Linked DNA regions of Homo sapiens: region 2 is linked to region 1. Evidence: fine-mapped expression QTL. A gene starts in region 1. The other region holds a variant in brackets. All regions are shown on one strand. Distances are between the middles of the regions. Region 1 holds the start of PBXIP1 (PBX homeobox interacting protein 1). Region 2 overlaps KCNN3 (potassium calcium-activated channel subfamily N member 3).

Region 1 (5,363 bases):
AGAAATGGTTCCACCGTGAGTGCACAGGCATGACTGAGAGCGCCTATGGGCTGCTGACCACTGAAGCTTCTGCCGTCTGGGCCTGCGATCTCTGCCTCAAGACCAAGGAGATCCAGTCTGTCTACATCCGTGAGGGCATGGGGCAGCTGGTGGCTGCTAACGATGGGTGACGCTGGTGAAGTGGCCCAGGGAAGTGCACATGTCTCTCCCTGCTCTTCCAGGGTGATTTTTTTGATGTTTGGCTCTTGGTCCTTGTTTCCACTGGCTTTCCATCCCCATGGGGCAGAAACAGTGGCTCCTGGGAGCAGAAAAGGAATTGAGGTGGGCAGGCAGAAGAGCCTGGATTGCTCACTGTTTTGGGAAACTTACATGTTGAGATCTACAGAGATCCAGGAAACCAAAGCCCTGCTGAGCAGAGCCATTTTGTGGCTATTTCTGGAGGCCCAGGAGTGTGGCTGCAAGAGAAAAGGGGCTGGAGGAAGATCCGGAGGGCAGGGGTGTTCCCTCTGCTGATGATGGATGCCCCTAACACCTGTGCCTAACACCCCTACTGAACCCCACAGCTCCAGCCTTAGTTTTTGGAGTCAAGTGTTAAAGGTTTCTGGCCAGAGGAATTGGGGTCTTGCCATCCCTGCAATAGCCCTTTTATGGGCTCTGGGAGACAGCTTTAGGGAATAAATGGGGATTTTCCCCTTTTTCTACCCACTCCTTTGCTTCCTCCAAGACTTACCCAACTCCTTCCCCCTCAGAGAACCAAATAGCCTGAGGAAGCAGGAGAGTTCCTGGTTATGGCAGTTTCTTGGTGATTTGGGGCTTCAAGACAGTAGGTGAGAGATGCTGTCAGGACGTATCTTCTTCATACCAAAGTCACTGGTCCTTTCTCAGCCTCTCTCGTGCTTTTCTCCTAATGACCATATTTTTGCCAAAAATTGGGATATGTTATCTGACAGACCAGAATATTTGAAGTTTGGGCTGTCCTGAAAGTCTGGACTTTGGTGGTACCCTCCTCCCCCAGCCCATCTGTTGCACATTATACTCCGTGTGTTCTTCAACTTTCGGCGCCCTTATTCCCCTGCCTTCCTGGCTTGATTGAAGGAAAGCTTGAAAAGGCGCAGAGCCCTATACCTCATTTCCTCCATGATAAAAGGATCCAAGTGAGGCCCTGTCACAGCCTGTGGGTAGGGGATGCGGCGGGATCCTCATTGCCATGGTACTCAAAGGTAGAAGAGCCTGGAGTTTGTTGCTTCTCTTTGCTATTCTTTCATATCCTCTTGGGCCTGGTGATTAATTAGCAATTCTCATTCCTCTCAGCCAAAGGCCTGCACTGGGCTTTATTTGTCTTTTTTTATTTTTTAAGCACTGCCTGCCAGAGATGGGCCTGGGGCCTGATGAGGACCTTAGCGCTGCTCGTTCTCCTTTTCTGTTCATGCACACATTCCTCCATGGGGTGGGGAAGGCAGGCATGGGGTGTGGCCCTCGGAGAAGTTAGGAGTCCCCCAGCTCAAGATACAGTGGCAAAGACCTAGTGGTCCCCTACCCCCACTTCTCTCAGTTCCTGGCATGAGGAGAGAAGACCCTGCTCTGGTGGAGCTGACAACCTTTGAGGCTGGGAGGAGAGCAGCCTCTGGGCATCGTTCCCAGTGTCCCTCACACTAAAACGGCGTAGATGGCAACCCCCCACCCCCACCCCGCTGCTCAACTCTTGTGTTTGTTGTTCTGTTTGCCCCATTTATCTGTTGCTGTTTTTGTGTTGTCTTCCCCTGCTCCGCATTTTGTAAAATGGCCCCTGGGGGAGTGTTTTTGCTGGATCTGCTCCCTCTCGCTCTCTCACTCCACTACTTTTTGGAACAAAGTGATGGCAGAATGCGGTGGTGGTGGGGGTCTTTTGTACTGTTGGATTAATAAAATGATTTTAAAATCCCAGACAAGGACTCCTTGCTGTTGCTGTGTGAAAAGGCTGGAATGAGCCGCTGTCACTGCTGGGTAGGGTGCTTAGGGGTTGAGGATATGTATGCTCCCCAGGGTCCCTGGGAGTGGGAATGGCAGATTTGGCCCCTGAGCTGACCCTGGTATAAGCTGCTGAGCCAAGGGAGGCCTGTGTTTCCCCGCCCATCCCCCTGTGTCTCCACTGTGAGAAACTGAGTTTCCTTTTTGAGCATATTCCTGGGCCAGGCCTGGAGCCAGGCGGATTTGGCACCACAGCCTCTGGAAGACAAGTGCTTGAGCTCTTCTGGGTTTAGCACCCCACCCACCTCCCAGTTGTTTGGGTTAGGGAGCAAGTGTCGCTCTAAGGGTGAGGGGAGGGGCTGCTTCTGTCCTAGCAAATTTCATTTTGGGATGTTTTTCAGATCGTTCCCGTCCCCCAACCGTTTTTTAAAGTAGCAATGGCATCTTTTAAGCAGTCTGTTTTGGAGCAGATTGGGGAGAATGGCAGGAGGGCTATTTCCACACCCTGGATTTGCGACCTGTCCCTCTCCCTTCCCCCATCTCACAGCTGTCTCTGTCTATCCTGGGGCCAACCTGGCCCCTTGTCTTCGTCATCTCAGAAGACGGCACCGTCTGCTTTTCTCTCAGTTTGTGGGGGTTCCCTCTAGAAACTGTTTAGACACTGGGAAAGAAGGGCAGGAAACTCAGGATTCGGTTAGCTGGGACCCCGGTCGCCCACCAGGAGGTAAGCCCAGGTTTAGGGCCGTGTCGCTAGACCTCCCTTCCCCTCCCCTGGCTCTCAATTCCTGCTCTTATTGGCCAAAAGTTTCCGCCCCCTTGGGGAAGTTGACTTTTCATTGGTCAGTTTCTGGTCACATGATTTTCTTCTCGGGCTGCAAACAAAGGGAAGCCTGCAACAAGTTAAGCTGAAGACCGAAGCAAGAGCTGGTTCAGGTAATGCCTTAGCTGGGAAGGGGTCCACAGATTCGCTTTGAAGGGGGTGGAATAAGGAAAAGGGAAGGCGGAACTAATCTAGAAGGAATGAGCTGCTTTTCATTTCTGGGCTGGGGGAGGAAGGCCAGGTGCCGACGCTAACACAACAGGAACTTGCTCTGGGTACCCCAGGCAAGTGGCCCTAGATCCTTTGCTTTAGCGGTTTGGAGGAGCAACTGTTAGAGGAGTTTAAATTAACTAGAGGCGAGACTTCCTAGCTTTATGCTGAGTGGGAGAGCTCCCCCTTTAGCTGTTTTTTAGAAATAGCAGAAGTCTCTGTCATAATCCTTACAGGAGGTGTTTGTTGAATCCTGCCTGAATGAAAAGAAGGGGGTGGAGGGAGGGAGTGGAGGTGGGTTTTCTTCCAGAAGGTCGATGAAAAGAAAAAGATCTGGAAACACAGCAGGGAAGGGTGGAGATTAGACAGCAGAAGGAACTTCCTAATAAGGCAGTGAGATGCTGGCTTGGGAGAAGAGGTGTTTTTTTGAACCCTGGGTTAACCTAACCAAGAAAGAGGTATCAGGGTTTGGAACCCAGAGTATAGGAGTTTCAGAGTGTCTCCTATTTGGGTCTCATAAGTATTTGTTTTGTTGACCCAAATACCTTTGCTGGTTTCCATGGAGACAGTGGGTCTGACATCACTGTGGTTGCCATGGTGCCTGGTTCTAGAGGACCTGAGCAGGCTGCACACACAGCTAGGGATAAACAGGGACTTCAGCCCAAGCTGCTGCCACTTCCTTCCTGCCACCACCTGTTAACAGTCAGCAACTGGGGATGGGGAGATGATAACAAGGGCGGGGGTGGAGCCACAAGCGGAAGGCTGAACAGCCATGGCTCTATGGATACTTACAGATGCATGCCAGGGTGTCCTGTTGGATTTGGTACAGGGAGGTCATTGCAGCCATTCTCCTGTCTCCGTGTGGAATGGGTGCATGTGTCTGGGAGGATGGGCATTGGGAAAGACCTATCCAGGACTTGGATCTTGACTGGCAGGAGCCACAGGAGGTTACTTAGGGCACCACGCAGGACTTGAAAACAGCTCAAACAGAAGGGGATAATGTGGTTGGTTTCAAAGGTAGAACTGCCATACTCTCCCAGCCTCACTTCCCTTTTCCTGAGTTTTCTTATAAAGTGCTCGGGAAGCAGTCATTTATCCTGTTCTGAGGGATCACAATCCAGTACTCTTGAGAGGTCAGCTCATCTATCCTTCCACCTTTATGCCTGGTCCCAACAGGAGCTGCCTGAGGGAACTGTTTTAGCCTTGGATGAAGGGGCGGATCCCTCTCTTCTTACCCTGCTTTGTGTCAGTCAGGCTTTGGAAACTGGAGTGATTCCCTCCCCTATCCCTGTCAAGTCAGAGCAGATTAACCGGGTGCAGGACCATAGCCCTGATTTTTGTCTATTTTTTGCAAGCTATAAAGTGATGTATATATACATGATAGTTGCCATAAATCCATTTTCCCAGTCACCTTCAAGTTCCCTAAGACCAAACTCTGGCGATTACTAAGAAGGTAAACAGAATTTAGGATGAAGACTGAGAGTGATGAGGAGACTTATAAAAGGTGCATCCAGGTGGATCTAAGCTATGCCAGTGGCTCTTAACCCTGGCTGCGCATGAGAATCATTTGAGTGGTTTTTTAAAAGACCCACAGCCGGGCCTACCCCCCAACTCAATTGAATCAAAATCTTAGGTGATTCCAATGTGCAGCCAAGATTGAGAACCACTGAACTAGACCATACCAAGGACTTATGCTGGGCAAGTGGTGGGACACTTAGGGCTGAAGGAGGCCATTGAGTCTTCCCTTCCAGGTCCTGGGGGAGAAGGTAGTGATTGTGTAGGTACCTGGTGTTGTGAAGGGAGGGCTGTGTTGTTTCCCTGCTCTTCTTATTAACAAGTCTTCTTATTGGCAAGTTGAGTCTGTCAACCTTGCTGGGCTTCATCTTCCCTGACTCAAATGTCAGGGGGCTGGACTGGAATTCCCCAGAGCCTTTCCAGCCTATGCTACTTTGACCTTTCAAGGTCAGTTCAGTTTTCCAAGGCCCTGTTGGTCCCTGGAAGAGGCTGGCTTCTCTGTGGGTGTTGGCAGATTCTGATTTGCAAGGCAAATACTGCTTAGAAGAGCTGGGGTGTCAGGGAGAGAAGGACTGGAACCAGGCTTGGTTCTGGAGGCTGCTGCCCAGCACTTGAACCTTGGAACCCAGCCAAGGCTGCTTTCTGCATTCTGCCCCTCCTGAAGGGAGCTCCCATCCTTAAGAGAGCTTTCTTCTGCAGGTGGCAGCCACAGCAGCCTCAGGGACCTCAGCAACTATGGCCTCCTGCCCAGACTCTGATAATAGCTGGGTGCTTGCTGGCTCCGAGGTAGGAAGAGCGGGCCTGGGAACCATGGGGGTGGGGTTGGGGGGTGTTTCTGCAGTGCTGGGCTTCTTTCTTGGTGGGTCCTTTT
Region 2 (5,363 bases), 110 kb after region 1:
CACGGTGCCCACACCAGCCGGCACCAGCCACTCTGGCTGGGGAGGGGGGGAGGCCTCCTTCTGGAACTCATCAGCGCTGGCTTCTGGCCAGGCCCAAAGGAGGTGGAATACACCCTCTTCCTGCTCGTTTTCAGAGATTTGGGAGGAGTAGGTATGGAGGACAGCAGCAGCGTGCTGGAGCCGGCTACTCTCGGGTTCGTGTCGGAGCTGGGGGAGTGACTGGCTGTGCAGTTGGGCAAGTTGCCTGGTCTCCCTGAACTTCAGTGTCTGTGTTTGTAAAGTGGGCATTATGATGCTTGGCCCACGGGTGGCTGTAAGGGCATCACACAGGTGTAATTACGCAGGTGTCATGTTCTTAGCTCAATAAATGGCCTCTGTTTTTAATTGTCAAGATATGATGATGGACTTGACTTGATGGGTGGGGAGAGGCAAGACCTCCTTGCCTTTAAAGGAGTTGAAGACTTGGGAAGCAGTTGGAATGGTGAATTCTATCTTGGGCGTGTTGGCTTTGAGGGGCTGGGGAAAATCCTAGGATATTCAGAAGAAATCTAGGGACTTCTAATCATGTGGTTCACATAAATGACCCTTACTATAATATCTATCTCAGAGTCAACTTTTCAAGACACCAGCCTCCCTGCAGGCAACCCCAGTGTGGCATCAGGAGAGCGGGGTCTTGGGTCAGCATGGCCAGCCCAGCCTCTGGCTTTGCTTGTGTCATTGGTGACTCCCCGTGGTCCTCGGTGCCTTCCTCCGTGATGGCATTTCCCATTGGCTGGCTGGGCCTCTGCCCAGGGATCCAGCTGGGTGCCGGCCCAGCTCAGGCTCCAGAGAGGAAAGAGCCCTGGATCTGGGGCCAGTGACCTGATATTCACGCTGGCTCTGCCCCTTCCCTCTCGGTGTGGCCTGGAGAGATGTGCAGGCTCCCCGAGGGCAGGGGGGGGTAGTGAGGAGGGTTCCAGGAGATGAGGGATGTGAAAGCAGCAGCACGTGCCTGGCACACAGGGGCCCTGGTAGATGCTTGGCGGACAAGTGAGGGCAGGCAGGGGAGGGGGCAGACAGGATTCAGGGAGGCAGGCCTGGGAGGAGCCCAGGGCTCAGGGAGGGGGGTGAGGGGTCAGGCGGAGCCGGCTCAACTCCTGGCTCTGCCGCTTACTAGCAGGAAGACTCCGAGTCCGGTGCCTGCTTTGGTCACATCCATGTGTGGGTGGTGGTGATGGGAGGTTGGCCTTGGGGGCCGCTCTAATGCCTACCTCACAACATAGTGATAGGTCTAGATGGATACACAGCACCAGGGCCTGAGAGTGCTGAATAAACCTTCATTCCTCCTCTAGTAAGCACAGTAAATCCCTAGAGGGCAGTCCCCAAAGGCCTTGATTACCCCAACTGTGGAGTACAGCGAGAAGTGGAGCTTCTGGAGCCAGTGCTTTCTCTGCTCAATTTTGTGTATTCTTTCACTCGTTCATCTGAAATCTGACCCAGCCCCATGGAAACTGGCTGCAGACACCCAATGGCAGTAGGGTACCAAGGGGCAGGGGAGCAATCGGCTCCCGGTGCAGACAATGAGGGGTACACTGTCTGTAGAGGATATAGAAAAATAAATAAAGCCAACAAAAAGTCTGGTTTTTGTTATTGCTGTGTACCGGCACTTCTAAACAAGGTCAGTGATAAAACACTCCTCCTCCCGGGGGGCAGACGCTCCTGGCTCCCCCTCAGTATGCTGCTGCCTAATCGTCCTCCAGAAAGGAGCCTCGGGGGCTGTAAATATCAGGAAGGAACTCAGCAAGGCCTGGCAGAAGAAGCCAGCGATGATTTGGAGAATAAGCCCATTGATGATTGCAATAGCAGCATGGATTTGGGGCTCAGGAGACCAGGAAGGGGAGGGTGCCACACTGTGAAGTAAGGGTAAGGCAAGAGAGTGGAGGTAACTGCTGTGGGTTCTGGCTGGGAGAGGCATCGTCTAGGCCCTTTAGACGTGGTCAGGAAGAGGGTGTACTTCATCTCCCTTGGGCCTGGCAGGAAGCCAGCGCTGATGGGTTCCAGAAGGAAAGCCCCCCAGCCAGGGCAGCCGCTGCCAGCTGGTGTTGGCTGGTGTGGGTGCTGTGCCACCCCACTGTTTTGGACCGGCAGGCTGCTTGCCATCTTCCAAAGGGGACTGGCCTCTTGACAAGGGTAGGAAAGGAGCCAGGGCTGCCCTATGGGCTTGGGGGCTGGTAGGGCGTTGGGGAAGGCAGGATTCACATTTCTCTAGCCTGGACAACAAGCATGTGCGTGAGGATCAAAATGAGCACTTTTAGGGTTTTATTACTATTATTTACTAAACAAGTTTCCTTGCAGGGTTGTGGAAGGGGCCCATGCAGAAGGATCTGTCTAGAGGAGGAGGCTCCGCATGTGTACAAGGGAAGGACGTGTGCCCTTGGGACTGGCTGGGGCACGGCCCTAGGGAAGTGTGTGTGTGTGTTTGCGGGGGTGGTCTGGTCATGTGGCCCCTTCCCTGACTGAACCCCTTGCAGGGCCCCATGCCACACAGCAATGCTGCGTCCGTTGCAGAAGCAGACACCTTTGGCTCCTGCTGTGTGGGAAGCAGGTGTGCATTAGTCAAGGTGGCCTCAGTGGTCCTGGGTAGTGGGGCCCCCGCAGTGAGAAAAGCAGAGACCTCTTGGGCCCGGGGGTGTAGGAGTCACTCTCCCTGATCTGCTCCCAAATGCAGGTGCATCTGGTTCCATTTGGAGCCGGTGAGCTGGCTGATGGTGGCTGTCTGGGGCTCCTGGGGCTGAGCAGCCAGGCTAAGCTTAGCCCACAGGCACTTCCCAGAAACTGGTGGCACTGTCACAGTGTTGGCTGGATGCTGAGGAGTTGGCAGGATACAGTGCAGGAACAGCAAATAGGTTTTATCTGGGTGTCAAGTTGAAACAATTGGTACCAGCTTCCAGGAGGGCTGTGTTGGGAAGGATTCTGAGGTGTTGTCTGAGCTCAATGGGAAGAGTGCCCTGATTGATTCATGAGGTCTATCTTGGGCAGGGGAAATGGAAGAGTGGCAAGGGGTTTGCCATCCCTGGTGTAGTGGAAAAAATACAGAGAGCCTAGATTTGATCTTAGGTGAGTGGCCCCAGTTTTTTTTCTCTCTCTTTTTTTTGTTTTTTGAGACGGGGTCTGGCTGTGTTGCCTAGGCTGGAGGGCAGTGGCACAATTTCAGTTCACTGC[A/G]ACCTCCACCTCCTGGGCTCAAGCCATCTTCCCACCTCAGCTTCCCAAGTAGCTGAGACTACAGGTGCCCGCCACCATGCCCAGCTAATTTTTGTGTTTTTAGTAGAGGCGGGGTTTCACTATGTTGGTCAGGCTGGTCTTGAACTCCTGACCTCAGGTGATCCACCCGCCTCAGCCTCCCAAAGTGCTGGGATTACAGGCATGAGCCACTGCAACTGGCCCCCTAGTTTCCTCATGTCTAAAATGAGGGTAAAAATGTGGCCCTTCCAACCCGATAGCCTTATTGTGGGCGCTGAGTAAGATAGCAGAGCGAAAGCCCTTTGTAAAATATAAAAAAGCGATACAAACCCAGAGTGGGGGTTTTGTTGTTACTGAGTCTCCCAGGAACCTGGAGTGACTTCCCAATAATAACGTCTGCCCCACTGGGGACTACTCCATGGTCTGAGTGCCTGAGAGGCCTGACAGGATGTGTGACCGGCGCGATGCCCGGCACCCAGGCCTTTGACACCAAGTGTCAACGAGGTGTTTGGTCATGTTTCCAACTCTAAGTCACTTCATTTCTGTCTGACTCTCTCCCTGGCTTAAGATTTAGAGACTGTTTTCATGTCTAATGAAAGAAGGACAGAAAATCTCTCTCTAGAACCTTGTCTCTTACTCTCCATTAAAGGTAGCAAAATTGCTTTATAAAGTCTAAAAGCCTGACAAGAACGCGTACTAATAATGCATGAATTATGCAAATCTGTGTAGTCACTTGATTTGCATAATGGAGGGGCTGGAGGAGGGTTGGGGAGGGGAAGGAGTGAGGGTGAGGGCGTCTGCCCAGATCTGTGTGTAACGGGGGACATTCATTTGCTCCCTTGGGTGGAGTCCCCTTCTGCAAGCCCCTGCTGGTCCCGAGGGTGTGTTCTTTGGCCTTCCCCTGCTGGCCTGGTGTCTGCCCTTTGTGGCCTGGCTGTGCAGCCCCCCCTCCTACTTTCGGGGCAGTCACCGAGGCAGGGGCACCGCACCCTGTGCTGGACTCTTGTGTAGAACTGGCTTCATTAAATCTCACAGCCGCCCCTCCATGTCCAGACAGCCTTCCCTGAAAGTCCCCTGGGTCATTATTTCTCCAAACGTCTGTCTTGCTGAGGCATTGGACTTCGTTAAGTGCCGTCTGGAATTGTAACTATTGCCAAGTGCCTTTTTCTTGGGTTCTGTGGGAAGCAAGGGTGAGAAGGAGTCTCCGGGAGAGAACTCCCCACCTACCCCGCCTGGTTTCTCTCTCAGCGTTTCTCACTGTTGCTTTAAAAGGTTTCAGCCTCTGCTGTAAGGGGCCTCTTGCTTTTCTCTCCCAGCCTCCCTGCATACTCGCTAACCTTGGGACTTCAGATTTGATGAGGGGCCGGGCGCAGTGGCTCACACTTGTAATCCCTGCACTTTGGGAGGCCGAGGTGGGAGACTTGCTTGAGGCCAGGACAACATAGCCAGACCCCATCTCTATTAAAAAAAATATTTGATGAGGGCTGAGGCTGGGACTGAGGATACTTGAGGCTTGAGCTCAGTGGGTGCTGCCTGGAAGCCCGGGGATGTGGGCTCTCAAGCTGAAGGGACGCTGGGAACCAGCTGTGGAGAGCCAGGCAGCTGGCTTTTTTGTCTAGAACCTGGATGGGGCAGCTTCTTGTTCTGGGGAGGGGAACTGTTCTGCAGGGTGGATGGATGCAGGGAGCCAGCCCTGGTTGGGAGGTGGGAGGGGCAGGGACCATATCTAGCTCCTGGAGAGGCCAAGCAGACCGTCAAGGCTACAAACAGGCTGGGGTTCAGCTTATTTCAACATACTTCTTCAGCATCTATGTCTATGGGCTGGGCTTGTGCTAGGCCCTAGGTGTCAGAGATATGAAGGCACTCATAGCTGTCATTTATTGAGCTCCTATTATAAGTGTCAGGTCCTTCGCTAAGCCACTTATTTACACGTGTCATCTCATGTAATGTGTATGACAACTTTATGAGGTCACTACTCTTACTGCCCCATTTTATAGATGAGTAAGTTGAGGCTTGGTCACATGGCGAGGAAGTGGCAAAGTGGGGCTCTAAGTGAGGTCTTCGGACTCCAAAGCCCCTTCTGCAGACCGTGATGCTTTGCTGCCTCTGTTGAGTCAAACCGGACTCTTCCCTTGAGGCCCTGA

What was found. PIP is the estimated chance that this variant, and not a neighbour inherited with it, causes the effect. A credible set is the group of variants that fine-mapping cannot tell apart.
Region 2: its variant is the best candidate, but not a certain one, in a credible set for the expression of PBXIP1 in whole blood (TOPMed, PIP 0.54).

What each region holds. Positions count from the first base shown.
Region 1 is chr1:154,953,586-154,958,948 of GRCh38, reverse strand. It overlaps PBXIP1 (PBX homeobox interacting protein 1), which reads left to right and starts at 2,850. Exons shown (of 11, transcript NM_020524.4): 1 at 2,850-2,880; 2 at 5,192-5,278. The coding sequence starts at 5,228. It overlaps PYGO2 (pygopus family PHD finger 2), which reads left to right. Exons shown (of 3, transcript NM_138300.4): 3 at 1-1,923. The coding sequence ends at 170.
Region 2 is chr1:154,842,783-154,848,145 of GRCh38, reverse strand. The region is part of intron 1 of KCNN3 (potassium calcium-activated channel subfamily N member 3); the gene reads left to right. Among named protein-coding and RNA genes, the nearest start is that of KCNN3, 25 kb to the left of the region's middle. RefSeq lists enhancers at 2,302-2,361, 2,682-2,741. The variant A/G (reference allele first, on the strand shown) is at 3,202.